2 separate regions of the Homo sapiens genome follow, and region 1 is linked to region 2. The links come from fine-mapping of genetic effects on gene expression. A gene starts in region 2. The other region holds a variant in brackets. All regions are shown on one strand. Distances are from middle to middle.

Evidence for each region.
Region 1: its variant is fine-mapped to the expression of LONRF2 in follicular helper T cells (Schmiedel 2018, PIP 0.95).

What each region holds. Positions count from the first base shown.
Region 1 is chr2:100,284,562-100,299,543 of GRCh38, forward strand. It overlaps LONRF2 (LON peptidase N-terminal domain and ring finger 2), which reads right to left. Exons shown (of 12, transcript NM_198461.4): 6 at 14,665-14,758; 7 at 14,275-14,389; 8 at 10,871-10,992; 9 at 9,668-9,826; 10 at 5,697-5,859; 11 at 2,353-2,502. Among named protein-coding and RNA genes, the nearest start is that of LONRF2, 30 kb to the right of the region's middle. RefSeq lists an enhancer at 6,370-7,010. The variant CTT/C (reference allele first, on the strand shown) is at 4,869.
Region 2 is chr2:100,310,404-100,325,814 of GRCh38, forward strand. LONRF2 (LON peptidase N-terminal domain and ring finger 2) reads right to left here and starts at 12,098. Exons shown (of 12, transcript NM_198461.4): 1 at 11,012-12,098. The coding sequence starts at 11,690.

The DNA.
Region 1 (14,982 bases), 26 kb before region 2:
TGCTCCACCAACAGACACGTGAGCAAGAATTAAATGCCACCTTGTATTTTAGGGCTAATTCACAATTCATTCAGCTCTCAAAATACATAGTTTACTTTTATGGTACACATTTAAAGGTGGGGGAACTCACAAAAGGAAGAGCCTGCAAAGAGAAGCATCTTCCATGGGGAGATTCTATGAATTAGTTGCTTCTGTTCTCTCAAGCTTTCAGTTAAGAGTATATACCAGTCAGAGGAGAATACTATCACTTTAACCTTCACTTTCCAATGTTCTGTGCTATTATTTTTTATGTCTTAAGCATGCCATATAAAGCATAATATTATAAAGGCTAAAAGTATGTGTACAAGTTTGAGTGACATACTCAATGTGGCAAATGAGTGTATGTATGAAACATATATATGTATGCATGTCATATGCAAGAGTTATCATAAATTATATATATAAGAATTATTATGCCACCAAATAACCTTTATTTCACATAATCAAACAAAGCACTTCTAGACTAAGTGCTAGGCAAAAGCCGATCATAAACTCGTTCTCAATATTCTTAGTACTGGAACCAAGATATCCAGGCCTTTTTGTTTCCAGGGTCTAGGATTCTTCACTCTATTCCTTCTCCAAAAATGTGCAGGATGCCGATAAGAGCTGGGAGGGTGAACTCTGGAGTCACCTTAGTTTAGGGTGAGGTAGATTATGCTGGAGGACTAGGAATAGCACTGTGGCCAAAGCTCACCAGGGGTAGCCCAAGTCACTGTGAGGAAGACATCAACCTGCCCTTCAGAGGTAGAAAGGCACAGATGGAGAAAACAACCTTTTATACAGATTCACACTCTTTTCCCTGCCTCATCTCACAGAGAAAGAAAAAAACTGAGTAGCACGCTTAATGGGAAGGACCTCATATAAAAATTGATGTATTACCTAAAATCCCTCTGTAGTCATGAGAAAAATGGTCCCCCATATGGTACCTTATATGGCAGAGGGAATTGGAGGATGTGATTCAGTTAAGGACTTTGGGATGGGGGGATTATCCTGATGGGCCCAATGTGTTCATATAGGGTCCTGTCTGGGCTGTGGTCAGAGGGACATGTGGCTTTGGAAGAACGGTCGGAGAGAAGCAACATTGCTGGCTCTGATGGAGGAAGGAAGCCGAGGAATGCCGCCAGCCTCTACAAGCTGCAGAGACAAGGAAACAGACTCTCCCCCACAACCTCCAAAGAGAAACGCATGCTGCCATCACCCTGATCATAGTCTGGCCTGCAGAACCAGGAGTGAAAGATAATACATATGTGTTGTTTTAAGCCACCACGTTCGTGAAATTTCTTAACAGCAGTAGTAGGAAGCTAATATACCCGCCAAGTAGAGATTGATTAATTTGGTTAATAAACAACAACTCCTAGGAAAAAGAATGACTCATATCCTAATGCAAGTCAGTGTAACCACCATGCTTTCTGAATCTGAGTTCCAGGATACTGCAGAACAAAGGCTTATGCAAAAAGGGCAAGCCAGGAAGGACTTAATGGCAATTTCTGGCAGTTAAAGCATTTTTCTGTGTTTGGAAAAAAAAAGAATTCAGGCAGGGGGTAAAAGATAGAAGCTCCAAGAGACAGAAAAAAAAAGTTAAAATGGATGGGAAAAGACCTTTCACATCACCCTAAACCAGCTGAGAGCCAATCCCCCTCCCCTACTGTCTTTGACAGCTGAGCATCCATGTACAGGTGGGAGGTATACACTCTCAGGCACAATCTTAAACCAGCCCAGCCTGGCTCTCCCATCTAATGCAGAGGAGAGGCCCACCTGAGCTTAGAAATGCTCCACAAACCTAAGCTCATTCATTGCTTAAAGAACCAGCTTCACCAAAAGTACTTGTAGGGAGCACCAGAGAAAGCCCATGACAGCTGGGCAGCAGGGTACTTAGAGGACAAGGAAGTCACGCTACTAATGTCACAAGAATGATGGGATTTTTCTCTTCACTTATTCAACATCTCTATACCAGGTGCAAGGCAATGCTATGCGCCAAACGTGGAATGTTCATGCCAATACAATAAAGTTACTACTTAAATTTTAAGATGTGAGTGAAAGAAGCAAAAGGCTACAAAAGCTGACAGCCAAGCAGAATAAACTGATTGTTGTTAGAAAAGAAATTATGTTCTGTTAGAGAGCCTTTGTTGTTTTGCTTCACAAGTCATGTGCTACCACAGTAGGTGCTCCTTTGGGCTGTTAGTAGATGAACTGGTTCATAAGCAACCACATTGGGGTAACCAGCATCATACTGCCAAGCTCTCCACCAGAATGATGGCTCAGCACACTACAGCAGGAAGTAACAGAATTATAAAGGAAAAAGGGAGGGCATACCTGAGGCTCAGGTTCTCTGTCTGGCATTACCCCAAAATGACTTAAAATTTGTTCTTTCATGCGATCCTGGAGAGACGCGAACCAGGAAACAGACTGTTGATGCACAGAATCGTGGAGAGCGGCAAGTTCTTCATACTCTGGACCCTCCACCTGATCAGGGAAAGAGGCACAGCTGTGTGAACCATTCACAGTAATGCACGTAACACAGTCAGCGACCTCTGCACCTCCACTAAGTGGATTTGTGGCAGTTAGCATTTTAATAATTCATCAGTTTCACAAAAATGGTACATGCTCAATATAGAAATCTGCATTTTTTGCATAGTTGAAATCTATCAATTGTATCCTGATTTTTCTCTTAATACCATAATATAAGCACATTTCCTGTAATTTTGAATAATGTTCAATGGCTGCATGCAATTATATATTTGAGATACATGCCAATTTACTTAACTATTCACGTAAGTTATTTAGAATATTCTAGCTTTTTTATTTTTAAAAATAACACAATAATATAAACATTTATGGAAAAGTTGTTTTGTTTTGTTTTGCTTTTTTGACAAGGGAGGGAGGTATGGTTTCCTCAGTGTAGTTTCCTAGAGACCTTGACAGAATTACCAAGTCAAAGGGTGACATTTTAAAAATTGTATTCCATATCACCAAACTATATTCCTAAAGGCACGACAGGGCAAGACTACACTCATTACATTGGCCTGGGCTGATGGACTCCAGCTTGTGGTCGGCCACAGCACCTTAGACTGACCAAGCTTGGCCTCTGGTCCCTATGTCACTATCACATCTGTCATTTAAATTACGCCTCAGTCCTGTTCAGGAACACCTGGTAGAGGAGGAAGAGCATGGGACTGGGAATCACGGGGCCAGGGTTTGGTCTGGCTTCATCACCAACTCTCATGTGTGAATCTAGCCAGTCTCACAGCCTCGTTAGGGCAGAGTTTTCTCATCTGCATAATAGGAATAAACCATGAAGGTCCTTTCCTGTTACAAAATTCCAGTACCTACAAAAACTACGGTGTGCTGAGAAATTATAATATAATGCATATACCACCCTCAATTTGATTTATACAAATCAAATATTCATATGTGATAGAGGATTTTCTTATAAAAATAAGCTAAAATTATTTCATGTTGTAGCTATTTAAGCCCCCATTTAAAATAAGCGCATACACTATTAAAAGCTGTCATCTACAACAACGGTCAATAAACCCTGCCGTCAGGTCTATCCATCCCACAGAGAGACCCTGAGAATTATCACTTTCAGCTGTAGCTTTGAAACCCAGCTTTCTGGTCCAGCCTGGGAGCTGGGCTCCCTGCTCTGCTCCCATGCACTGGGATGACCAGAAACAGCAGCTGGAGGAGGCACAGAGACAGTGTCCTGGGTGTGACTCCATTCACAAATCCTAAGTGTACACCACTGCCCCCAAAATGACTTCCAGTGTGATGTGGGGTGGCTACGTACCCTCACTTCCACAATTCCAAATGTCAACCAAAGAATTTAAAAGAGGGATACAATAATTCCAAGGATTTCCTCCTTTTAAGTATTTTAAAATTTCTTGCTGCAGTATAATTTACAGACCAAAAAGTGCATAGATCTTGTTGAGCTCAAAGAGTTTTCTCAACTGTATACACCAGTCTGACCATCACCCAAAACCAGATAGACATTTCCACTACTTAGAAAGATTCTTCACCACTCCCTCCAGTCAATTACAAAGCCAACCCCACAAGCCTTTTCTGACTTCTGTCCCCAGACTCTAGTTTTGCCTGTTCCTGGAAGTATACAGATGAAGCCACGCGGTATGTGTTCGTCCTGTGTCTGGCTTCTCTCACTTAGCATAATGTCTGTGAGAGTCATCCATATTGTTTCATGCACGAGTGGTTCATTTCTTTTTATTGACAGGTAGTATTCCATTGCATGAATGGACCACAATGTGTTTACTGACTCAAGTGTGATCAGCACCTGGGCTGTTCCTGGTTTGGGGCTATAATGGAGTAAGACTGTTATGGACATCCTTGTGTAAGTCTGTTGGAGAATCTCTCAAAACATTTTGCTAATTTGTCAAATTATATGTCCTGATATTTCTATTAGACACATGAAAAAATTCTTAAGGGTTAATAAATTCAAGTCTTTTATATTTAGCTTTGGGAGGTATTTTTTAAGTTGTAGATTTTGTCACATTCTGAATTAATACCAACCTAGAGAACAGGGACTGACAGACTGCTGTTCATGAGTCAAACCGTGCTCACCACCATGTTTCCGGAAGTCACATTTAACGGAAACCAGTCATGCTCATGCCTTTACACATTGTCTATGGCTGCTTTTGCACTACAAGGGCAGAACTGGGTAGCTTCGACAGAGACCACATGGCCTCTGGAGTCTAAAGTACTTATTAGCCGGCCCTTTACAGAAAAAGTTTGCCAGCTCCAGGGCTACAGCATCAAATACAAATCAAAAGCCTATTTTGCAATGCGCAGGTTTACATGTTGCATAAGTACAATAAGGT[CTT/C]TTTTTTTTTTTTTTTTTTTTTGAGATGGAGTCTTGCTCTGTCGCCCAGGCTGGAGTGCAGTGGCACGATCTCAGCTCACTGCAACCTTCAGCTCCCAGGTTCAAGCAATTCTCCTGCCTCAGCCTCCCAAGTAGCTGGGACTACAGGTGCCCGCCACCACACATGGTTAATTTTTTTATATTTTTAATAGAGCCAGGGTTTCACCGTATTAGCCAGGATGGTCTCAATCTCCTGACCTCGTGACCTGCCCACCTTGGCCTCCCAAAGTGCTGGGATTACAGGCGTGAGCCACCATGCCTGGCCAGATCATTTTTTTAAAAGGAGATTTCTGTACCAGCTCCCAACTCAGGTAAAAATCCACTGAGAAAATAAATAACTGCTGAAGGCAGGGGCTCATGCCTGTAGTCACAGCACTTTGGGGCTACTACACTTTGGTTGAGGTGGGAGGACTGCTTGAGCCCAGGAGTTTGAGACCAGCCTGGGAAACACAGGGAGACTCTGTTTCAACGACAAACAAAATTTAAATTAGCCATGTGTGGTGGTGTGCACCTACAGTCCCAGCTACTCGGGAGGCTAAAGCAGGAGGATCGTTTGAGCCTGGGAGGTCAAGGCTGCAGTGGGCCAAGATCATGCTGCTGCACTCTAGCCTGCACGACAGAACAAGACCTTGACTCAAAAATAAACAAATAGATAAATAAATAACTTAAGTGATGAATTAAGGACTTAAGTAATATTGTCAGTACAAGTTTGACAAAGCTTTTCCACAATGCAAAGGGAAGCGAGAGGACCGACTGCTATAAAATACACCAGTATGATAAGCCTTACCTTTTCATCTTCAAGATATTCAATGTCCGCTGTGTTATAGCCATCTCTGTGGCGGTGGCTTAGCACTCGGAACCGACTGATGCCAATCGCGTCTACAACAGAACTTCCATCAGGAAACGTTCTCACGTCCTTAATCTCCAGCATGCATCCATACTCTGAAAGCCTGAAAAGACAGTTAGGAGAAATGACTGTGATTTTTAAAATGCAGGGGGCCTTCTTTTTCCCTGGATGAGAGTTTACTTTTAAAAGGAATACAAAGCCACACAAAACAGTGTCTCCACATCAGACCAGCAAGGTTATTGTCGCTAAGAGACACGTGCACATGGTCGCTTCTGTTAGATGTTAAATATAGTGGTGATGGTGGCTGCAGGGGAAGGGCTCCAGGTGAGACAGGACTTGTGCCTTAGCGGTTCCAACGGGCTAGTGTTTTGGGAAGGACCCGAGAGATGGGAAGAGATGAAATCTCAAATGTGGCTCCTCAGCCACCTTGGCGGGGCACCATCAGGACTGCCCAGCTGGTGCCACGCACACACTCGGCTTTCCAAAGCTCTCCCCAGCTCTTACCCACACTCCGATTGTAACTATCACCCTTATCCTAGTGATATTCTCATGCTACCACGTGCCAAGCAACACACGGAGCAGTTTATAATACATATGAATTCAAGCCCACACTTAAAATTTGATTCATCAAAAGTCAACAAAGTGAAAAAACAAGCTATGAGTTCCATGTGCACTGAGAATATAGAACACTAAAAAGAATGTGAAAAACGACAAGGAAAACCAGATAAACCACAAAACATATGTCTCTTGAACCCACCAGAGGGTGGAGATTGCTCAGGGTAACCAAACAAAGATCCCACAGGGAGAGAGTAGGCAGAACCCAGGAAGAGACACAAAAGTGTGTAGGAAGCATTCAGCTATTTTTTTTTTAAACAAATTGCCAATGACCTTGTGTGGGCTGGCACCAGAGTGCAGGTCTGGAGAGCTGCACTCACAAAGGGAGTTTGCATCACACACAGGATCCTGTCCACAGATAAGAGCCTCCTTGATGAGTCATGCCCTGCAGTGAGGCAGGCTTGGAGGAGCTGACGTTTATCTGGAGGCCTCTGCTGGTGCTGGTTGCTGGGGCAGCAAGTCCTCCACCTTCAAAGGCACTCCGCTCCTCCTCCCTCCTGCCTTCGCCCACAAGGTCTTCACCTCATTCCAATTCTGCCAGCTCTGCCCTCCCCAACCAAAGTGCCGTGGAAAGCAGTCCCCGGCCACTGCCTTCATCTCCTTGCCTCCCCCTCACTCCTCCATATCCTACCGTTCCATTAAAATGACTCCAAAAGAAGTCAGAGATGCCCTCTGAATTGCTCAAATCACTTGACAGGCTCCTGTCTGACCTCCCTAAGGCACGGCCCTGCAGACTGTTGCTGAGCTAATGCTTCTGCTCTCCTGAACCCTCTCTAACCAGCCCGGCCCTTCACAGCCCCTACCTCTGCATGTCCCTCCTGCTCCATGCTGCCCAGGGTGGTATTCTAGGCTATGTCTATTCTCATTCCAAAGCTCTCCCCAGCTCTTACCCACACTCTGACTGTAACTATCACCCGTAACCTAGTGATGTTCTCACGCTACCACGTGCCAAGCACCACACACAGCAGTTTATAATATATACGAATTCAAGCCCACAAAACACGGAGGCTCAGAGGAATTAACTTCTCTAAGGCCACAGGGAGATTTAGAGCCAAAATGAGAACTCATGGCAGTGTGATTCTAAAGTTCTCATGGTGAGCAGCTTTACTACACGTCCCCCAAACTAAAGAGCAGCGATGATTCAAACTGCCACCTGGATGCCTCTACTTATATACTTAATAAAACTCTCTCTTCCTGGTATCTAACAGGATGATCTCATTCATAGCATGGTGAAACTGGAGGCGCCCTGAAGATTCCTCTTCAAGGGAGGACTGAATGCCCCAGCAACCAGCAGAGGCCTCCAGACAAATGTCAGCTCCTCCAAGCCTGCCTTGCTGCAGGGCATGACTCATCAAGGAGCCTCTTATCTGTGGACAGGAGCCTGTGTGTGATGCAAACTCCCTTCGTGAGTGCAGCTCTCCAGACCTGCACTCTGATGCCAGCCCACACAAGGTCATTAGCAATTTGTTTAAAAAAAGAAAAATAGCTGAATTCTTCCTACACACTTTTATGTCTCTTCCTGGGCTCTGCCTACTCTCTCCCTGTGGGATCTTGTTTGGTTACCCTGAGCAACCTTCACTCTCTGATGGCTTCAAGAAATACATGTTCTGTGGTTTATCTGTTTTTTCTTGTTTTTCTTGTTGTTTGGATGGGAATAACATTCTTTTCAGTGTTCTATATTCTCAGTGCACGTGGAACTCTTATAGCTTATTTTTTCTCTTTGCTGACTTTAATCAAATTTTCATATATTCTAATTTACTAATCTCTCCCTCTGTTATGTATTCTCAGCACCTTGTATAAAAAATCTTTCCCCACTCCTAATTATAAAGGCAGTCCCCAATATTTCCTCTTAAATGTTTTTATATTTTGTTTTTCACATTTCACATTAGGAATGCAAATGTGTTATTTTTTTATTTATGGCATAAGGTAAAGCTTTTTCCCCCCCTCTCATTTGGACCACCCACTAATTTTCTGGGCACCCTTTACTGAGTAGTTTGTCTTTTCTCATACAATTGTCTATAAATTTGGCGTCCACATATGAGTGGACCTGTTTCGGATCTCTACATTATTGTGTCACTGGTCTACTTACTAAGGCTTGTAAACTTGATATTACAGGAATGTTCTCCTGTTTGTTCAGCCAGATCTGGGCTTAGTCTTTTGCTTTTCTACACGGATTCTAAAATCAGCTTGAGCAAGTCCATGAAGAAGCTTCCTGGAGATGCTGACAGGAATTACTCTGGATTTGTGGAACTGGATAGAGATGGCATCTCTACAGCATTGAGTCTGTGCACCAACGGACATGGCATTTCTCTCCTTTGATTCAGAACTTCTTATCTTTCAATAAAATTTCAGAATTTTCTCCATAAAGGTCCTACACATATTTTAAAAAGATCTGTCCCTAGATATTTATGGTGGAAAATTCTGAGTGGCCCTAAAAATGCAGTCTCCTCTTCTTCCTGGGCACGTAGGTGGACTATATTTGCCAGGCTCCTTTGCAGCAGGTGTGAACAGGAGGCAGCCCCCTTTCTCCAGAGTCCTTTAAGAGCATGTGCACCTCCTCCATAGCTAGCACTTGAATGCAGTGACCTCATCATGACTATGTAGGGCTGACAAGGCCCTAAGGGATGGGAGGGTCCTGAGTCCCCAAATCAGTCCACAGAGGGGAATGACCTGCTGGCTTGCAACACCCTCTCTGGACAAAGACGTGAAACGAGGGGAGGTGAAAACCAAGCTTAGTGTGTTTTTGTAAGACTGAAAATGATTTGGCTGTAGAGACAGAGAAAAAGCTTTGCGCAGGATATAGACATTTTTCTTTTTAAAATGTTTTTGTAGAGATGGGGTCTCCCTATGCTGCCTAGGTTGGTCTCCAACTCCTGGGCTCAAGCGATTCTCCCACCTAAGCCTTCCAAAGTGCTGGGATTACAAGCGTGAGCCACCAAGCCCAGCCGCAATTTTCCTAGACCTCAGAAGTTGGACTAGATTTGTTTGTATATAAATGGGGATAAAGAAAATTGCAGGCAGAGGGAAGCACAGAGGTGTGGAAGCATGAGCTGTCACAAGAGAAGGGCAAGTAGCATGGCAATGGACTAGTGGGTGTGATACTTGAAAGGAAGAGGTGGGCAGTGAGGCTAGAAAGAAGGGATGGGACTGCATTGTGGGCAGCCTTGAACTTGGACTTTGTTACGTAACGGGAGCCACTGGAGGTTTTCAAGCATCAGCCTAAATCATTCTGCAAGAAAAATGACAAACGATGCCCTTCATTAGGACCCTTTGAACCAAATGCTAACAGTTCTTACCCCGCGTGCTCAGCAGATAAACACATGCCAAACCGCTTGGTGCCAGTTTCCATGCATCTTCTTATCATAAGCCGATAGCGGGGCTCAAAAACGTGGAGTGGACATGGGACCGTGGGGAAGGCCATGGCACACACAAAGATGGGGACGTCTCTGGTCAGACTGCAGAGCAAGGGGACATGTTATCTCAGATGTATGAGCTGTTAGATCAGAGGGTGGTACTGGCCACCAAAACAGCAAAAGCCAGCCAACCTCAGTTCTCCCCTCTACAAAACAAAACCCTCAGGCTAAGAGGGACAAGAAAGCCAAGGACCATAGCATGTGAAAATTCTCTGCTCACCCAGGTTTCCTGACAAATCTGTCTTATTTAACTTGAGGAAAGAGAACATGCTGAATTATATTACTTTGCTTGGAAAAGTTATACCTTTTAAGCACTCTAAAAAAATTCTGATAAAAGCAAAAACTACATAGTAGTCAAAGGCAATGAGTTTTAGAAGAGTGGAAGAGTGATAAGATCGCTACTAAAATACAAAACTTTTACCATTTTAAAAGATGAAAACTGTCAAGCCTGCTGTGATTCGCAATCCTGGGTATTAGTTCTCATTCTCTCTACTTTTTAAAACTGTGCTTCACTTTACTCCACTTTGCAGACATTACATTAAAAATTTTTTGAGGTAAAATATACGTATACAATTTGCTATTCTTAAGTGTACAGTTCATCAGTAACAAATACATTTATATTATTTGCCTTTTATTTATTTTTAATATATAAATTATTTTTAATTATTTATAATAATTTTTTAATATAGAGGTGGGGTCTTGCTATGTTGGCCAGGTTGGTTTTGAACTCCTAAGCTCAGGCAATCCTCCTGCACTGGCCTCCCAAAATGCTAGGATTACAGGCATGAGCCACTGTGCCTAGCCTTCTTTGCTTTTTAAATCCTGAAAAATTCAGTATCACTTATTTACATACAAAAAGCAACTATACAATTTTGTTAAAACACTTTAAAAATATCTTATAAAAAAAGAAAACAAATTCTTATAACTGCTTGCAATTATGTTTCCAAAAATATTTTGCAATTAACATCCTTTTCCATTTACAGACCAAGAGAGTTCTCTGCCATGAAAAGAAAATCTGAGGTGAAGCTGAAGTTGACAAAGTTCAATCTGAACTTAAGACCAAGGACACACAACATGAGCACTTACTTTGACAGTTCTGACATTTCTTCATCATAAATTCTCTTCCTATCAGACAATTCATCCGGCAAATATCGAAATATTAATTCTTCGGCCAGAACAGTTATGTTAAAGTTTCTGCTTGCCAATAACTGTAACAAAAAAAAGTCAAATGATACTGTATGGTAATTGATTCTAAAGGACGAAGCTTCCGAGTGGAAAGGTGAACAAGGAGGTGGTGGGTGGGATCTCTGAGCAGGTAAGAAGGAAAAGGGATGGAGAGAGAGGCGGGCCAGCCTGTAACAAGAGCAGGGGCAGCCCCTCCACTGTGAGAAAAGGCCAGGAGGAGGCGTTCACCTGGATGAAGGATGAGGCAACTCAATCTTGACAGCATCTACATTTTCAACCAAGTGCCATGATGTTGGTGAGAGGGGAGGAAGTGAAGTAGGGCATGTTGGGAGAGGAGAGACTTTTGCAATGATCAGCTTGGAAAGTGAAGAACTGGAACTACTAGAGAAAGAATGTAAGAATGATTACTTATGTTTTGAGTCTAAGACTTAAAATTTTTCATTTAAACTGACACCAATCTTCCCAACATTATGTTTTTTTCTAGCTTTGTTGTATTACTTAGGATGCATGCAAAAGGCAAAGGTTGACTTTTTTTGGATTGAGAAAGAGAGAGAGGGACCATGGATTAAAGCGGGATGTGAAGGGAAGGTAGGAGACTGAACAAGAAAGTGCTGGGATCGGTGGGTGGAAGGGCCACAATGTGGCTGAACTACTACTCTGCGTGTGTGTGTGTGCGCGTGTGTATGTGTGCACACAGATTAGTAGTTTGGTAGGTTGCACTGTTTTATTGCAGGCATGTATACTAGCATATAGTAGCTCTTTTCACTGACATTCTGATGCACATCAGGGACCACTGCAGGTGCTTTATTAGTCCTGAAAACAGTATAATACTATAGTTGTTCTCTCCACTGCGCTCATAAAGCTGTGATTCAGAAAGGGTAAGGGGTCAGTGCTGAGCCACCATGGCATAGCGAGGACCCCAGGCCTGGCGGGCTTCAGGGCTCTGCTCTTTCCTTGGTGGCCTGCTGCATTTCTGGGCTTGGGATGGCTCCACGTATTTCCAACACACCATGGCTGGGTGAGTCCTTCGCATACTGCCAGGTTTCCTTGTGGTTGGTGTGAAACAAACTAAATGTATTGCTGTGATTGACTGAGAACCAGGAGTTCAAACTTTGGAAACGCCTATGTTTGAGAACCACCATCACAGGGTAACTGGTAGAGAAACAGGCTATCATCTCACTCACAAAACTGCTTCATAATTGTCATTATTAATGACATAGGTATTTAATAAATGGTTTATGATGTCCTTTTATTGAAGAGTAATACAATAAAACATGCTCTACTTGGCATGATGCTAGCCAAGGGTTCTGGAGATTCATATATAATTGATGATTCAGGTCCCTGGTAGTGCATGCAAAGTCATTTATGTGCATGATGTGACTCCCGCATTGAAGAAAGACAAAACTATAATTTTGGATTTTATTTCACTTTATAGCATTCTAATTTCTGGAACATTAGGAACCCATGTATAGTTTGCATGTAATCATTCATTCATTCATTCAACAAAGACTTCTAGAGTCTCTGGTGCATGTGCTAGTCCCTGGAAATACAGGGAAAACAGGTCATAGGAAGTCTCAGTACTTAAGCAGCTTCTATTCTTTTTTTTTTTTCTTTTTGAGACAGAGTCTCGCTCTGTCGCCCGGGCTGGAGTGCAGTGGCGCAATCTTGGCTCACTGCAAGCTCCGCCTCCCGGGTTCACGCCATTCTCCTGTCTCAGCCTCCCGAGCAGCTGGGACTACAGGTGCCCGCCACCATACCTGGCTAATTTTGTTTTTGTATTTTTTTTTTAGTAGAGACGGGGTTTCACCGTGTTAGCCGGGATGGTCTCTATCTCCCGCCCTTGTGACCCACCCGCCTCAGCCTCCCAAAGTGCTGGGATTACAGGCGTGAGCCACTGCACCCGGCCAAGCAGCTTCTATTCTAGTGACGACCTCCAGCTATCACTTCTTCACTCAGCCCCCTACAAGGCAGCATCGAAACAGAAGTGAGTAAGGTCTGTGTTGTAAACAGGGCTCACACATACATGCATTTTATTCTTGTAAGAACAGATGAGCCTGTTCTGGCCCAGGCAGGCACCAAAACAAGAGGCAGTGGGTCCGATGCATCTACTAGCAAGAAGAGACAGCAAATGCCCAGAGGAAAACTGCACAGGGGCCACCAAGGAAACAGCTCTGCAGACTCAGAGCACAGTCACCACTGTGACACACAGCGCACAGCACAATAATTGATGTTCACGAGAACTCTGAAGAATTTAAAAAGATTCAGTATGCATGCAATTTAATAAAGCAAGTATGTGCATACAATGTTTTAGAAAATGTTTTCAATTGTAACTAGTTATTTTAATGTTTTGGCAGTAAATTTTAAAGGTTATAATTATTTAAAACTTCACTTAAGTATAATATCTCATCTTATCACATCAGATTTAAAAAATAAATTTTACTGTACGTTTGTAAAAAGAAAAAAAAACTTTATCCTACTTAAAATGCATTCAATAAGTTTAATCTCTGGAAAGTAATTAAGGCAAATATTATCAGTCTCATTTAATGAATGCAAAACAAAGGAAGATACTCCCCACCCCCTTAAGATGTTATATGACTTGCTCCATAGAAAGTTCATGGCACTAATAGGACCACAGCCCAATACAGCTGATATGGATTCACTATTTCAGGAATTGATCAGAAGGTCTTCAGCTTTTAAATACTCTTCATTGTATTTACCATACCTAACGTAAATGGATTTAATAGTTTATATTGGGGCTAAATATCATTAAATAGCTTCCCCATGGAACCTGGATTTAATAGTTTATATTGGGGCTAAATATCATTAAATAGCTTCCCCATGGGACCTGAATTTTACTGGTTTTGATTTCAGACCAAAGACAATAATAACTGACAACTGTAAAAGCCCTAAAGGGACTCACCTGTGGTCAGAAATGATCAAGTCTTCAATCCTACGAAAAACTCTCAAGATGAAAAAGAGAATTCCTGGAGCACATTAAGTGCACCATGACAACGTCTCAACCATTTACAATGAACGTAATGTAGGGTTCATAATGTTAGCTATTTTCAATCTATCTCAACTAAAATTTCTACCTAAAAATGTCCTTAACATTTAGCAATTTCTGTATGTCAACCTTCCTTGTGTATTTCTTGATTCATCAAAGAGATGAGAAAAGACCTATCTTTGATTGGAGAAATCTCAGTTTCTTTAACAACTGGGTGGGGGAAGCAACACGAGACAGGGAGTAAGCGTCCACCAAGGGATGAGAGGAGGAGCTGTCCCGTCATTTCCTAAAGTGTACTTACTTCCGAAAGTTTGTCTTTGCACAAAGGACAGTGTGGGGCGTGGTCAAGGCAGCGCTCAAGGCATTTTAGGCAAAATGTGTGTCCACAGGGCGTAGTGACAGGTTCAAAGAGCAATCTGGAAGAAAATATCTGTTTTCAGCCAGAAATGTCCAGGACAGACTTTCAAATCATGGACTGGTTTTTGAAGGATTCCTTATGCAATCCCCTTTCTGTTCTAGAAATCACTTGCATGCACTTTCATTTTATATCTTATTAAATCTTTAGAAAATAAATCAATTATTACTGAGCTCTCCCTAGTTTCCGTGATAATAAAAAGCCCATTACACTTTGGTATACATTTCAGAAAGGCTGCAGTTTTAAAAGAGTTGCACGGATTCTGTACCATCCTACCTCATGCAGAGGGCACACTCAAAGTCAGTTACATCAAGCGAGAGCCCCTGACTTTCTTCTGTCTCAGAGTTTGGGCTCCTTTGAAGTGAGAGATCTGAATGCGAAAAAATTTAAAACGCTGTAATTAACACCTAAGCACCTGAACAACAGCATGCAAGAAATGTATTTTCTCTGGACCAAACGTGTTGTATCAATGTAACAAATCACACTGGGCAGAAATAGTTCCTGCCCAGTTAACAGCATACAGCAATAATTTATCTGGATGGTAAGCATGAATAAAATTTTAAATTATAGCTAAATTTTCTCTGCTATTTTTGA
Region 2 (15,411 bases):
TTTCAGTTTCCTCCAAAACCTTGACCTTGATTCTTTTCAAACTACCCACTTGGTGCTTTCCAAATGCCACTAGCCTCCTTTTAGTTTATGTAGGTAACTGAGCAAGCATACACCGAAGAACTTACACACAAAGATATTACATCAAGACATGGTGAAAAGTAACTACTTATAAATGTGTCATCACCACATATGTGTAATATAGAGAAAGTATAACAAGAAAAAAGTAGAAGGGGAAAGAAACAGCAAGAGTTAAACAATACAATTTTAATTATTAAGAGAGACATTGCTGGGTATGGATAACTGGCTAGAGCAGGTGGCAGAAACTTTTTTTCTGTAACAGGCCAGATAGTAACTATTTTAGGCTTTGCAGGCAAAGAGGCAAACTGAAGGATATCATATAGATACTTGCTTAACAAGAAGGAAAACAAATTTTGACAGATTTCTTATTGACGCAATTTAAAATATGGTAACAATAATTTAAGTACTTTTTTGTAATACAGATAAACTAATGAGAAGAATGGAATTCTTGTTTGGGGAATAACATTTTTCTTAAGTTTCCAAGTTAGTGTTTCCTATCATCAAAACAACTGAAAATATTCATCTGTTAATTATGATCTAACATGAGATTTTATGTATTTCATCTTTGAAAATGCACATAGTAACTGTGAAAGTGCTGGCATCAATTCATATGATTTTAAATTGAGCATTTTAATTGCTGGGAAGACATTATAGAATTCTATTAGATTCTCCTCACGGTATCTGCCTTTTTAGCATGTTATTAGATTATTTCCAACTAAAAGATTGGTGAAAATGCCTCAATCACACAGTTAAATGCATTTTGAAATATACAATTCTCCTTTGGAGATTTCCAAAAATCCAAAGGAGATTTGGGGAAAAAAATGTAATACTTACTATAATGCTGATTTTTTTCCACATCTTCCAAAGGAGATTTGGAAAAAAAAATTTTGGAAAAAAAAAATGTGCTCCTGGAAGTATAGTTTTTTAGGCTTGGGTTATGCCTGCTGCAAACCTGTGTGAGAATGGAGATCTCATATCCTGTTTCCACTTGGCTACAGTTTCTTATTAGTCCAATCTGCCAATGGATTCTCTTGAATATTTTAAACAAGAATGTCATGTGCAATTCACTCCTTTTCATTCTAGTATTTATACTCCTATTTCCTCATGCTCTCATATTGCAATAATAGTGACAGCATTTTCTCTTATTCTTGAATTTAAAAAGCATGTGTCTAATGTTTTAACATAAAATATGTTTGTTGTAAGTTTCTGAGAGAAAATATTTATCAAGTTAGGTGATTTCTCTCCCATTCCTAGTTTTCTGTAAGGACTTTATAACAAGTAGGTGTTGAATTTTATAGACTGCTTTCAGCATCTGAGAGATTACATATAGTTATCTCCTTCAACCTGATATGGTGAATTACTCTGAAAGATTTGTCTAGTACCGAATTATCCTTATGGTCCTAGTATAAGCTCTTCTTGGTCTTAACTCCTATTACACTGCTGGACTCAAAATACTAAGAAATTTAATTAGGATTTTGACATCTATATACATATGTAAGACTAGCCTACACATTTTTTTTTCTTGTGCAAGCTTTACCTGATTGTGGTGTCAAGATTATACTAACCTTATTAAATGAGATGAAAATCTTCCCACATTTTTCTATGATCTGAAATAAGATGGAAATTAGTCACTGAAAGCTGTAAGGACTTTCTTGACCTTAGCGCCTTTTCAGCAGAAGAGAATCCCTGAGGAGCATCTCAATTTTTTTGAAGGCTTTTACTTCTTCATGGATAAATATTGATAATTTGTATTTTCCTTAAAATTGTCCTTTTTATATAAGTTTTAAAATCTTTTATAAATATCCTTTTATATCCGCAATGATGCTTCTTTATTCCTTATGGTATTTATGCCTTGCTTTTTCTTGAACACATTTATCAAATATTTGTCCCTTAATGGCCTTGGCAATGAATCAGTTTCTCACCTGTTAACTAACTCAATTTTTTTCTGTTTTACTAATATCTTGTTCATTATTCCTTTGCTTATACTATCTTTGTGTTAGCTTAATTAATCCTGATAAAGTTTCTAGTGTTAAAAATACATTTCATTTACATTTATTTTTAATCATTCTTTTCTAATGAATACATTTAAGTCTCTACTCCTCACATTCTAAAGGGTGCTTTAACTGAACTCCAAATTTCATAAAATTCACTTCCCATCTACACTTGATCTTAGCCAAAAGGCCAAGAAACAATCACTTCTCATCTCGACACTGAATGAATCACTGTTTTCTTTGTTGACGTCCACCATTTGGTGATACATTTGTGAGGACAGCACTTCACAATTTAGTCTTTTAAAACACATAAAATAAATGCTTACACATTTTCTAAGGATTAAACCTTAGGCTCAACAAAACTAAAGGAGTTCTCCAAGGATCCCTCAAAACTAAGTGGAAGAGGAAGTGCAAATTATTAAAAGTCTTTGTGTAGAGAAAACATATGGAAGAAAAATGTACATATGTACTTTCCAAAGAATTGATGCAACATTTCAGTAGGTTCACCAATTAACCCCTCTATGGGGAAAAGTCATAAGAGGGCAGCCTAAGACCCAGGCTTTGAGAGGAAAAGAAGAGATGTCTACCACAACTGTGTTTAGGGTCGACCAAAGGCTGTTTTCCAACAGCAACCCAGAGCCACTGTTGTACTAGGAGCTAGGGTTACTGCTATAAAATCTATCAAATGTGTGCAGTGGTGAGAAATGGAGGATTACATGTTATTTTACACAAGTTAAATGAGCCAGGCGTGGTGGCTCACGCCTGTAATCCCAACACTTTGGGAGGCCGAGGTGGGCGGATCACTTGAGGTCAGAAGTTTGAGACCAGCCTGGCCAATATGGCGAGACCCCATCTCTACTAAAAGTAAAAAAATTAGTCAGGTGTGGTGGAACATGCCTGTAATTCCAGCTACTTGGGAGGCTGAGGCATGAGAATTGCTTGAACCTGGGAGGTGGAGGTTGCAGTGAGCCAAGACTGTCCCACTGCACTCTAGTCTGGGTGACAGAGTGAGACCCAGTTTCAAATAAATAAATAAACAAACAAATGGACACATAAAGCAATAAAAACTGGGTAGTGTTCTCTATGAAAAGAAAGAATAAGTGGCAATACTCCTCAAAGCCTATTTATTCAAATTGATGGAAGACTGTAATTACAGAGTCAAGTCCACAAATCTTAGGTGTATATCTCAACCTTTGCATGTGTACCCGTGCCATCATCATGTAGTTCATTCCCAGGGCCTAAGAAGGTTCCCTTGTGCACTATCCCACTCAGTGTGCCCCTCCTAAAGGTAACCACCATTCTCACCTCTGTCACTTTGGATTACTTTATCCTGTTTTCTAACTTCTATAAATGGATATTTATAAATGGAATGTACTTTTTTGTATCTGACTTCTCACTAAATTATCATTCTGTGAGATTCATTCTTATTGTTATATGTCTCAGTAATATTTTTAAATTAATATTTTAAAAAATTTAAAAATTGCTGTGTAATATTACACTGTATGACTTGATTTATTTACTCATTCTACTAGTGATGAACAATTGAACTGTTCCCCAAATGTTTCTGGCATATATAAATAAAGCTGCAATGAACATTCCTGTACACATATTTTGATGGACATAAGCATTCATTTTTATCTAGTATATACTCAAAAGTAGAAATGCCACATCAGAGGTTGTACGAGTTTAGCTCTAGCAGGTGCTAACAAACACATTTCTTAAGTTGTTGTACAAACTTATGCTTCCATCAGTAATTTAAGAGTTCCAATTGCTGCAAATAAAAACTAAGTATTGCCAGTTCTTTTCATTTCAGCTACTCTGGTGGGGATGTACTAACTTACTTTCATTTTAATTTGCATTTGAGCACTAATTATGTTGTGCAGTCTTTTAGATGTTAATTGCTCACTTTGAGATCTAGTTTTTAACTCTTTGCCTATTACGTAGTTTCAGCTAAAGTTGTTTCTATCAATGGTGTTAAGTGAGTACTTACTGTGTTTAGACAGATTGGCTTTTTCTTTTTGAATCATAGGCATTATTTATTCTGCATTAGAGGTCTCAGTAAGATATTTGTATACTCATCCCCTTCTCACTTTTTTGGGGGCCTCTGAGGAACAGAAGTTTTATTGTTATGCTTTTTGTGTCTTATTTAAGAAACAACTGCCTACCCCAAGTCCTTGAAAACAGTCTCCTATGACTCCTAGATACTTAATTGTAATTTTGTTATATGATGTGAGATAGGTATTCAGGTTTATTTTTTTCCATATAAAAAAGCAACTGACTCTTTTTTCCCCATTGAATTTTTCCCCATTGAATTCCATTAGCATCTTTCAGAAAATCAAGAGACTGTATATGTGAGAGTCAGTTTCAATGTGTCTATTTTTAAGCCAATACAATGCTGTCCTAATTACTGCAGCATTATAGTAAGTATTGGAATCTGCCAGTGTAAATCCTCCAGCTTTGTTGTTTTTCTTCACTGTTGCCTTGGCCATTCATCAATTTCCACCAAAAACACTGGCTAGGATTTTCTCTGAGATTGCACTGAATTTACCATTCAATCAGCAGAGAACTGACGTCTTGCCAATACTGAGTTTTGCAATCCATGAAAAAAAATGATATATCCATCCATTTAAGTCTGCTTTAATTTCTCTCAGAAATGTTTCATGTTTTCAGTGTATTGAAATGAAATTTTCAGTGTAGAGGTATTAAACATCTTTCAGCTATTTCAGGATTTATTCCAAGGAATTTGTTTACATAAATTGTTTAAAGTTTTTTTCCTATTTGTTTTTTCTAAGTATATAGTTATGTTTGATAACCTCTATATTGACCTTGTAGTCAGCAATCTGGATAAATCATTTATAATTTCTAATAGTTCCTACATTCTTCTGGAGTTTCTATGTATGCCAGGTCATCTACAAATAATGACAGTTTTTTGTTTTATCTTTTATTTTTCCAATCTTAATACATAGCTATCTAGAATCTCCAGTGAAATGCTGAGTGGCAGTGAGAATAAAACAGTGTTACCTTCTCATTCAATGGGAAAACATTATTTCATCATTAATTATGATAGCTGCTATCTCATTTTTGTAGACTTTTAAAAAATTAAGAAAGTTCCTTTTTATTCGTAGTTTCCTGAGAGATGCATCATATCATTTTTCTTTTTTCTGTAAAGATGGTGAATTACATTGCTTGATTTTCCAGGATTAAACAAAACTTAACCTGCTTGCTACTGATGTGATATTCTTTAAGGGTATCAATGGATTCAGTTTGCTAATATTTTATTTAGGATTTTTGCAACTATATTCGTAAGAAACATTGGGCTGTATTTTTCCTGTCTTGTTACTGATTTTGGCTCCTTTATTTCCTTCTTTGTACTCTCTTTGGATTCTATTTGCTTTTCTTTTCCTAGCATCTTGAAATGGAAGCCTAAAGATCACTGACTATCAGCTGTTCTTTGGTAGTATGGGCATTTAAAACAGTAAGTTTCCCTCTAAGCACTGTTGCATTGCATCCCACAGTGTTTGATATCTGTATTTTCATTATCATTCAGGCAAAATAGAAAATTTTCTGGCCGGGTGCGGTGGCTCACACCTGTAATCCCAGCACTTTGGGAGGCAGAGGCGGGCAGATCACGAGGTCAGAGATCGAGAGCATCCTGGCTAACACAGTGAAACCCTGTCTCTACTAAAAATACAAAAAATTAGCCAGGCGTTGTGGCAGGTGCCTGTAGTCCCAGCTACTGGGGAGGCTGAGGCAGGAGAATGATGTGAACCTGGGAGGCAGAGCTTGCAGCGTGCTGAGATCGTGCCACTGCACTCCAGCCTGGGCAACAGAGCGAGACTCCATCTCAAAAAAAAAAAAAAAAAAAAGAAAGAAAATTTTCTAATAATTATTAGAAATTCTAATAATTCTAATAATTATTAGATAATTAGAAAATTTTCTACTTTATGTTGTGATTCATTTTACCCATCATTATATAAAAATATATTGCTTAATTTCAAAATATCTGAAGATATTCTATTTATGTGCTATTTAATTTTAGTTTAAGTCCACAGTGTTTAAAGAACATATACAGTCTGGTTTCAATCTTTTAATATTTATTACGACTTCTTTCATGGCCTAATCCAGGAGTTGGCAAACACAACCACAGGCCAACTCCAACGCTCTGCCTATGGTCATGGGAGCCTAAATGGCTATGTTTTTGCAGTAGTTGTATGTAGTGACACATATTAATTAAATCTAAGTGCTGAAGTATGTTGTATCTATATCCTTACTTATTTTGCAATCCTTACTTTATCAGTTACTAAAAGTTTTGTTCAACATCTCCAATTATTTCCCCTTTTGCTTTTGTCTCCTTTTGTTCTCTCCATATGTGTGTGTGTACACTTGTTGTTAGGTGCATAAAAATTTAGGCATATTATTACACATTTTTTTTCTGTTGAACTGGCCCATTCATCATAAATGTCTTTATTTCTTCTGATATTCCTTGCCTTAAAGAATACTTTATCTGATAGTCACTTTGCCATATCAGGCTTTTGTTTGTCAGTCTTTGTTGCCATCCTACTAATTTTAACCTTTTTTTGTGTTCTTACACCTAAAGTTTACCTCGTGTGTAAACAGCATGTAGCTATACTTCACTTAATCCAATCTGCCAACATTTAGTTTTTAAATGGGAAATTTAGGTCTTCACATTTAATGTAAATTAAATCCCCATTTTTCTATTTCTTTTCTAGTTGTCCCACTTATTCTCTCCTTCTCTATTCTTCCCTCCCATTTTCTTTTGGATTAATCCAGTATTACTTTACTATTCCACTATAGCTTTTTTTTAATTTTACCTTCCTATTGGTGGTTACCCAAGACAACAGAATATGCAAACCTGATTTAGCAGTCTACTTTAAATTGGTACTGTTACTACCTCCAAAACAGTGTACAAACCATACAACAATTTAACTGTATTTACCCATTCTGGCTTTGTCCTGTTGCCATATCTTTCACTTTTATGTATGTTACAAATACCACAAGACATTATTATTGTTATTTGAAATAGTCAATATTGTCTCATATTGTTACACCTTCTAGCACTCTTTACTCTGTGCATTAGTTTCACGCTTCCATATGGATACGTTTCCTTTAGCCTGAAGACTTTCCCTCAGTATATCATGAAATGCAATTCTGATGGTAATAAAATCCTTTAGCTTGAGTTATTTCTTTGGTTTAAAGCACCTTGATTTTGTGAAAAATATTTTCAGGTAAAGAATTCCAGCTAGGTTTTTTTTTTCTTTCAGCACTTTAAAGACATTATTCCATTAGCTTCTAGCTTCAATAATTTTGTCTAAAAGTCAACTGTCAGTCTTCTATGATTCCTTCGAAGGAAATATGTCCTGTCTTCTCTAAATGCATTTAAATTCTCTTTATCTTTGATTTTCAGGAACTTGACTATAATGTACTTGGATGGGTTTTGTGTGTATGTTTGTGTGTGCACTTGTGTCCACCCTGTTGGGCTTAGTGAACTTTTTGATTCAGTGATTTAAAGTTTCTCATCAGATTTGGAAAATTCTCAATTACTTTTTTCTTTAAATATTTCTCTTGCCCTTCCCCTCTCTCTTCTTCCAGGATTCCAATTTCATCGATGTTGGAACTTTTGTCTGTGTCTCACATAACTCCCATGCTCTCTTTTAGTCTTCTTCTGTGATTCAGTTTGGATATTTTCTGTTAACTTGCTTCTGAGTTTTCTCATTCAGATTTCTGATGTGTGCCATCTGGTTTGTAACAAATCTAATTCTCAACTTCAGACATTGTATTTTGAATTTCCAGGATACCCACTTGGTTCTTTTTTATGGACAATTGTCTTCTGAATGCTTTATATTTTCATACATTTATTTACCTCTTTCAACATACGTACTAGTTATTTTAAATTCCACTCATAACTTATCGGCCAAAAGTAGTCACATGGCTCCACCTAATCACAAGTGGAGCGGGAAGTGCAATCCTACCTTGCCTGGGGAAGGTATAGAGATAGACCAGCACTAATGACTACCACACTTCGCTAAGGTCACATAATAAATAAGCATCAGACATCAGGTGTGGTGGCTCATGTCTATAATCCCAGCACTTTGGGAGGCTGAGGCGGGCAGATCACTTGACTACAGGAGTTGGAGATCAGCCCGGACAACATAGTGAAACACGTCTCTACTAAACACACACACAAAAAAAATACGAGGCATGGTGGTGCATGCCTGTAATCCCAGTTACCTGAGAGGCTGAGGCACGAGAATCACCCTTGAACCCAGGAGGCAGAGGTTGCAGTGACCGATATCATGTCACTGCAGTCCAGCCTGGGTGACAGAGCGAGACCTTGTCTCAAAAAAAAAAAAAGAAAAGGCCAGGCATGGTGGCTTACACCTGATATCCCAGCACTTTGGGAGGCTGAGGCGGGCGGATCACAAGGTCAGGAGATTGAGACCATCCTGGCCAACATGGTGAAACCCTGTCTCTACTAAAAATACAAAAATTAGCTGGGCATGGTAGTGCGTGCCTGTAATCCCAGCTACTTGGGAGGCTGAGGCAGGAGAATTGCTTGAACCAGGGAGTCGGAGGTTGTAGAGCCACGCCACTACACTTCAGCCTGGTGACAGAGCAAGACTCCGTCTTAAAAAAAAAAAAAAAAGTCAGAGCTTGGATCTAAACACAGGTATTTCTGATTCCAAACATCTGTGAACTTTTTTTTTAACTATATCAAAACCTCTTTAAAAGGGCTAATTTATTTTGAAATTAAATGTTTTCATAAAATTTTAAGCTAATCTTTGAATAGAAAAATGAATACATTCTATATAAGTTCTCATATGAATTTACTGAAATAGCCTATTTTAAAAACGTTTAAATTAGGTCTAATATATATACAGAAAAGCTAAAAATATAAGTATATAGTGCAATGAACTATTGCAAAGTGAACACACTTGTGTATCCATCCCCTAAATCATGAAACAGAACATCACCACTACCCCACAGATCCCTCTCATACTTCCTCACAATCACTATTCCCTTTTCATCCCCCCAAGGTAACCATTGTCCTTACTTCTAACATCCTACAGTAATTTTGTCTGTTTGGGCTTACAGATAAATAGGATCATATAGTAAAAATGCTTGAGTCTGGCTTCTTCCACTTAACATTATGTTTGTGAGATTTGTCCACATTGTAGTTTGTAACTGTAGTTGATTTATTTTCTTTCTGTATAGTATGCTATGAAAACATAATCATATATTCACCCCTTCTGCTCTTACTGGACATTTGGGTTGTGTGCACTTTTGGGGTATCTCTAACAATGACATACACTCTTGTATCTAATTGCACATTCTTTTGGGGGCACATATGCATATACCTCTTTGAAACTATTTGGCCAAGGACAGGCTTAACATCTGTAGATACTACCAAATATTTTTCAGGGGCATAATTTGCAGTCCCATTAGCAGCATATAAATATCACAGTTTTCATTTTTCTACATCTTCTCCAACATCTAAATACAGATGAAGTATTTCTGATGAAAATTTGATGTTGGAATTGGGTAGTGCAGTAAATGCAAAATATATAACGAATTTCAAAGGCTTAGTTTAAAAAAGTAAAATCTCAATTATTTTTTAAAATTGAAGGCATGTTGAAATAATATTTTGGATGTATAGGGTTAAAAATTGCTAAAATAAATTTCACCTGCTTTTTTCACCCTTTTAATGTAGCTACAAGAAAATCCCAAATTATGTGTGGCTTACACAATAGTTCTAATTGGATAGTGCTGCTCTAACACCATCAATACCTAAATTAGTAGAAAACTAAAAAATATGCCTGTTAAAGTATGGATATGTTGGTTGCAAAAACTACAGAATACTCGTTAGAAAAGCTGAGTTAAGTGCTCTATTCCAGCAGAGAATATCCCAATTTAGATACAGATATTGAACACTTGTTCAATATTTGGATCTTTTTTTTTGCAAGACAAAATTGAATGCTAGTCACTTTATAATTTGTGCCTTCTAAAAGGGAAAACCTTAATCCTAAGTTTAAAATAAAATGTGCACTGACTACAGCATGGTAGTAGATTATTTTAGTAACAAGAGATTCAACAAGTCTTCTCGGCTAGTGCTTTAAATCGTATATGCCCTATTATAAAACCGGTGAAACCAGAAAGCAAACCGTCCTCCTCACACTGCCCAAAACAACTGCCAATAGAGCGCATACTCATATGTCAAAGCCAAAACGATGACAGAAGTTTGGTCTTCCTTTCAGCTAAATAGTGTTAACAGGTGGTGGCTGGGTGAAGGCAGGAGAGTGCCTGTTGCTGGCCTTAGGCCTCAGATAAATAAGGAAATGACTGAATGAACAATTTAAAACTACACACACTAGTCAGTGTAACTATCTAGTAAGTTAAATACGCCATGACATCTAATGATGGCCTCTGAGACAGAGAGCAGGCTAGAGCCGGAGCGTTTGACGTGATTACAGCAGAGTGGAGGCGGTTCCTTCCTGGCTATATTAGCTGAAACCCAAAGCAAATCTTGCCCCAGCACAAGGCACCCCTTTCTGCGCCTGTAGTGTGTCAGCTATGTGCATTTTCCTTCAGGATGAGCAAAAATATTTCGTCATCCTCCCCGCTCCTCAACAGCGCAGAAGATGCCGAAAAGCAATTACAGGACCTTACAGAGCTGCTCCGGGGGCCGCGGGAAACTTACCAGCATCCTGGAAAAGACAAAACCAGTGGGGTGCACTTGGCCTCTCCTGGCTGCAGGGTGTGGCCGCCCCCACCTTTCACCTTCCCATCCTTAGGAAGCAAAGTGACCCCTAAGCCTAGACAAAGCTCTCGAAAGCCCAAAGCCTCGGGCCCACCGGCCAGCTCCCCACCCCGCTGCTGGGCCGGACAGGTGTAGGGGAGGCGGACCCGCCCCGCAGCCGACTCACCCAGCTCCAGGGCCTGGTCGCACCTGAGCAGCGCGGCCTCCGGCTGCTGCTGGCGCTGCAGGCTCCGCGCCTGGCCTGCCAGCCTGCGCAGCCGGCACTCGGCCGGGAAGCACTTCTCCAGCAGGCCGCTCAGCACCACGTTCACGCGCCGCACCTGCGGCCGCGCGGGCCCTGGCTCCACGCAGCGCTTGCAGACTGTGAGCCCGCAGGGCAGCGTCACCGGCTTATGCAGCAGCCGCCGGCAGCGCGGGCAGCCGAGCAGGTCGCGGGGCGCGCGGGGCTCCGGGGCCGGCCCTCCCTCGCCGGGCGCCTCGGGCTCGCCGCCCGGGTTCTCCGCGGACAGCGGCCGGTCGCGCAGGCCCACGGCGCGCACCAGGCCGCCCGCCAGCTCTTCCAGCTCCTCCGGCCGCAGCGCCCCGAGCCGCGCGGCGCCGCGGAACGCGCCCAGGGCTTCGGGGAGGCGGCCGGCGCGGGCCAGCGCGTCCCCCAGCCTCAGGCACAGGCCGCGGTCCGGCTGCGCCAGCCCGGCTAGCATGGAGCGAAAGAGCTCGGCTGCCATCTCGTAGTCGCCCGCGCGGAAGGCCTCGTCGCCCTCCTCTAAGCGCTGGGCGATCGGCTCCGCGCGGTCGCAGCCAGGACACTGGGGCGGCGGCGGCGGCGGGACCGGCTCGGGGCTCATCACCGCGGGGCTGCGACGACGCGGGTCCGGAGCGAAGGCGCGGAGCAGGGAGGATGCGCTGCTGCTGGGAACTGGCCGGCGGGAGCGCGGTCTCAGCCCTCGCCAGCAGCCACGCGCGTCTGGGGGCGGCGCGCTGCGAGCGGCTGAGACCGCGGGCGGGGGCGGGCGCCTGGCTTGGGCAGCGTCCTCAGCGCGGTGTGGGCGGCGAGCCCCGCAGGGCTGCAATCGTTCCGGGGTGGGGGCCGGGACAGGCACCGCGGGCGCAATCTGAGCCCCTGCCCACGCGCAGCGGCCTCTCAGTCCCGCCGGCTTAGGTAACCCAGGTCGCTGCGGTAACGCAGTGACCGCGCTCCAGGTCCGCGTCTCTTGCGATGCTTCCCCCACTCGCCTGAGGGCTCCTGCGCGACTGCGCGCGCGTCCTCTGCCTGCCGCCTCCCCGCAGAGGTGCCGGGGCCCTGGGAGCAGGTGGCCTTGGCCGCGGGCTGCTGGCGCGCCGGCACCGCGGCACCTGCTCTTCCCCAGAGGCCTGGCCGCCCCCACAACCTGTGGCTCCGCTTAAGCAAGAACCCAGGAAAAGTCACCAAACGCATCACGCATCTCTAGCTTCGACTTAGGAAATTGTCCTAAATGACTGGGGAGGCTGAAGTGGGCACCCAGAGGCCCCGCCTCAGCGAGCTTCTTCTCTTAACTCTAGGCTGAGGCCTTTGAGAACTCATTTTAACAGAGAACGTGGAGGGCCAAGAGAACCAGATACCAGGAGGAGGAGGGATTCGAGAAGTGGACAATTGTATTGTGCCCTTGATTAGGAAGCAGAAATAGAATTAGAAATAGAATTCTAATTAATAGAATTAGAATAGAAATAGAAAGGGTGCCCTAGTATGGAGTACTGCAGACATAAGTTGCTGGGGAGAGGGAGCTAAACGCTCCGTTGGTGTACAAGCAAGGTTTAAATTAAAATCCTCTGTGCGTATTAACCGGGTTCATAATTTCTCCTATATAGCCTATGTATTTCTCCTATGTAGCCTGCTCCCTTCTTCCTGTCGTCACAGTATCTGTTTTATCCTGTGTATTTGAATACAATAAAATGCATTACAATATTCTAGAATTCATACTACTGTTCATATTTCAAGAATAAATTTTTTTAAAAAATTGGAGAGGTTTTTCTACATCTAAAACTGCTGGCTAAAGAAAATATACAATACCTCGACCACATCTGGCTTTGGGAAAGGAGAAATGCCTCATTAAGTGAGAGAACATTTTAGACCAGTTCCTAAAAGGGAAAAAGGGGCAATTTTTGGCCAGCCCTCTAGTTCTACAATAAACAAATGCAGAGTACCCACCTCCTTTTCCATGAAGGATTTCCCCCAGCTGTCTACCTAACTTAATTGATAACAGTGTACTGTTTGGGTCTCTTTTTCATTACTGAATTATTTCAAATTCACTTTTTCAATCACTGTTTGGATTTTTATCTGCTTTCTTTATAGAATAACAATTCACTTATATTTGAGGGTCATTTATCCATCAAATTCACAACCAACAATCAGGAAGCAATGGGGAAAAAGCTTCAGAGCACAGACCATACAGTAAAGATTGTGAAACCTTATGATCTCAGATCCTATTTGTTCTTATTTTAGACAAATATCTAGCAAGAGAACAGAAAGAAGCTTGCCGGAGGTATGCCTGCTGAGAGCCAGAAGTGTTTAAAGCAAAAATGTTAGTGTGTTGTGAGGTTTATAACACATAGAAATAAAATATATCACAAATATAACACAAAGGCAGGTAGAGGAGAAATGGCAGGATACTGTTGTAAGGTTCTAATGCTATATGTGAAATGGTATAATGTCACTTTAAGAAAGACTGTAATGAGTTAAGGATGTGTCCTCTAACCCTAAAGCAACCTCCTAAATAACACAAAGAGCTATAGTTTAAAAGCCTATAGAGATGAAATGAAATTGTTAAAAAAAACTCTATTAATCCAAAAGAAGGCATAAAAAGAGAGGAAGGAAACAATTAGATAAAACAAATAGAGAACAAATAGCAAGATGGCAGGTTTAAACCCAATTATATCGGTTAATGTTCATTAAATATTGTCTAAATACCATAATTAAAAGGCAAAGATTGTCAAAAGGAAGACCCAGATATATGCTGCCTACCAAAAAAGAACTTTTAAATATGAAAATACAAATAAGGTAAAGGTAAAAGGATGGAAAAAGATGTTCTAGTTAACTCTAAGCAAAATAAATCTAGAGTGACTATATTGATAGCTGACAAAGTCTATTACATAGCCAAGAACATTGCTAGGAGAAAGGACAGCCATTTCATAATGATAAAGGTGTTAGTTGGTCAAGAGGACATAATAGTCCTAACCGCGTGTGTTCCCAATAACAGAGCTTTCAAATATTTGAAGCAAAAACTGATAGAACTGTAAGGTGAAATAGGTAAATTAATAATTATAGTTGGATATTTAAATATCCCTTTTTCACCATAAAAAGAACAAGATCATGTCCTTTGTAAGGACATGGATGGAGCTGGAAGCCGTTATCCTCAGCAAACCAACACAGGAACAGAAAACCAGATGCTGCATATTCTCACTTATGAGTGGGAACTGAACAATGAGAACACATGGACACAGGGAGGGGAACAACACACACTGGGGCCTGTCGGCGGTGGGACCGAGGAAGGGAGAGCATGAAGAAAAATAAGTAATTCATGTGGGGCTTAAAACCTAGGTGATGGTTTGATAGGTGCAGTAAACCACCATGGCACACGTTTACCTATGTAACAAACCTTCACATCCTGCACGTGTACCCCAGAACTTAAAAATAAAACACCCCTCTTTCAACAATTAATACAAGTATACTGAAAATCAGTGAGGCTATAGAAGACTTGAGCAATTCTACAAACCAACTCAATCTGATTGATGTTTATAGAACACTCCACCCAACAATAGCAGAATACACATTCTTTCCAAGTGCACATGGGACATTTACCGATATAGAACATCTTAGAGCCATAAAACAAATCCCAATTTAAAAGTATTCCTTCTAGGGCACTGATACATCAATAAATTGGATCAAATTGAGGACTTCTGCTGTTTTAAAGACACTGCTAAGACATGCTACACACTAGGAGAAAATATTTGCCGATCACATAGCTGATAAAGTACGAACCAAAAATATATAAAGAAATCCAAGAACTCAATAAGAAAATACAGAACTGGATTAAAAAGTGAGTGGAAGATTTGAACAGTCATTTCATTACAGAAGACATATTGATGGCAAATAAGATGCTCAGCATTATGAGCCACTGGGGAAATGCAAATGAAACCCCAAGCAGTTAGTACTGCACACCTAGTGGAATGTCTGTGATTAAAAAGGCTGACCATGCTGAGTGCTGGCAAATACAGGGCATATGCAGAACTCTCACACATTGTCAGTGGGAGTGTACCATGGTGCAGCCACTTTGGACTACAGTTTCTTAAAATGTTAACTGTATACTTATCATATTAACCACCCATTCCACTTCTAGGTATTTATCCAAAAGAAATAAAAGCATATGTCCATTCAAACACTTCTACATGAACCTTCATAGCAGCTTTATTTGTAACAGCCCCAAGCTAGAAATAATTCAAATGTCTTTCAACGGGTGAATGAACAAATTATGATTTCTCTACACAATTGAAAACTACTCAGAAATAAAAAGGAATGAACTATTAATGTAT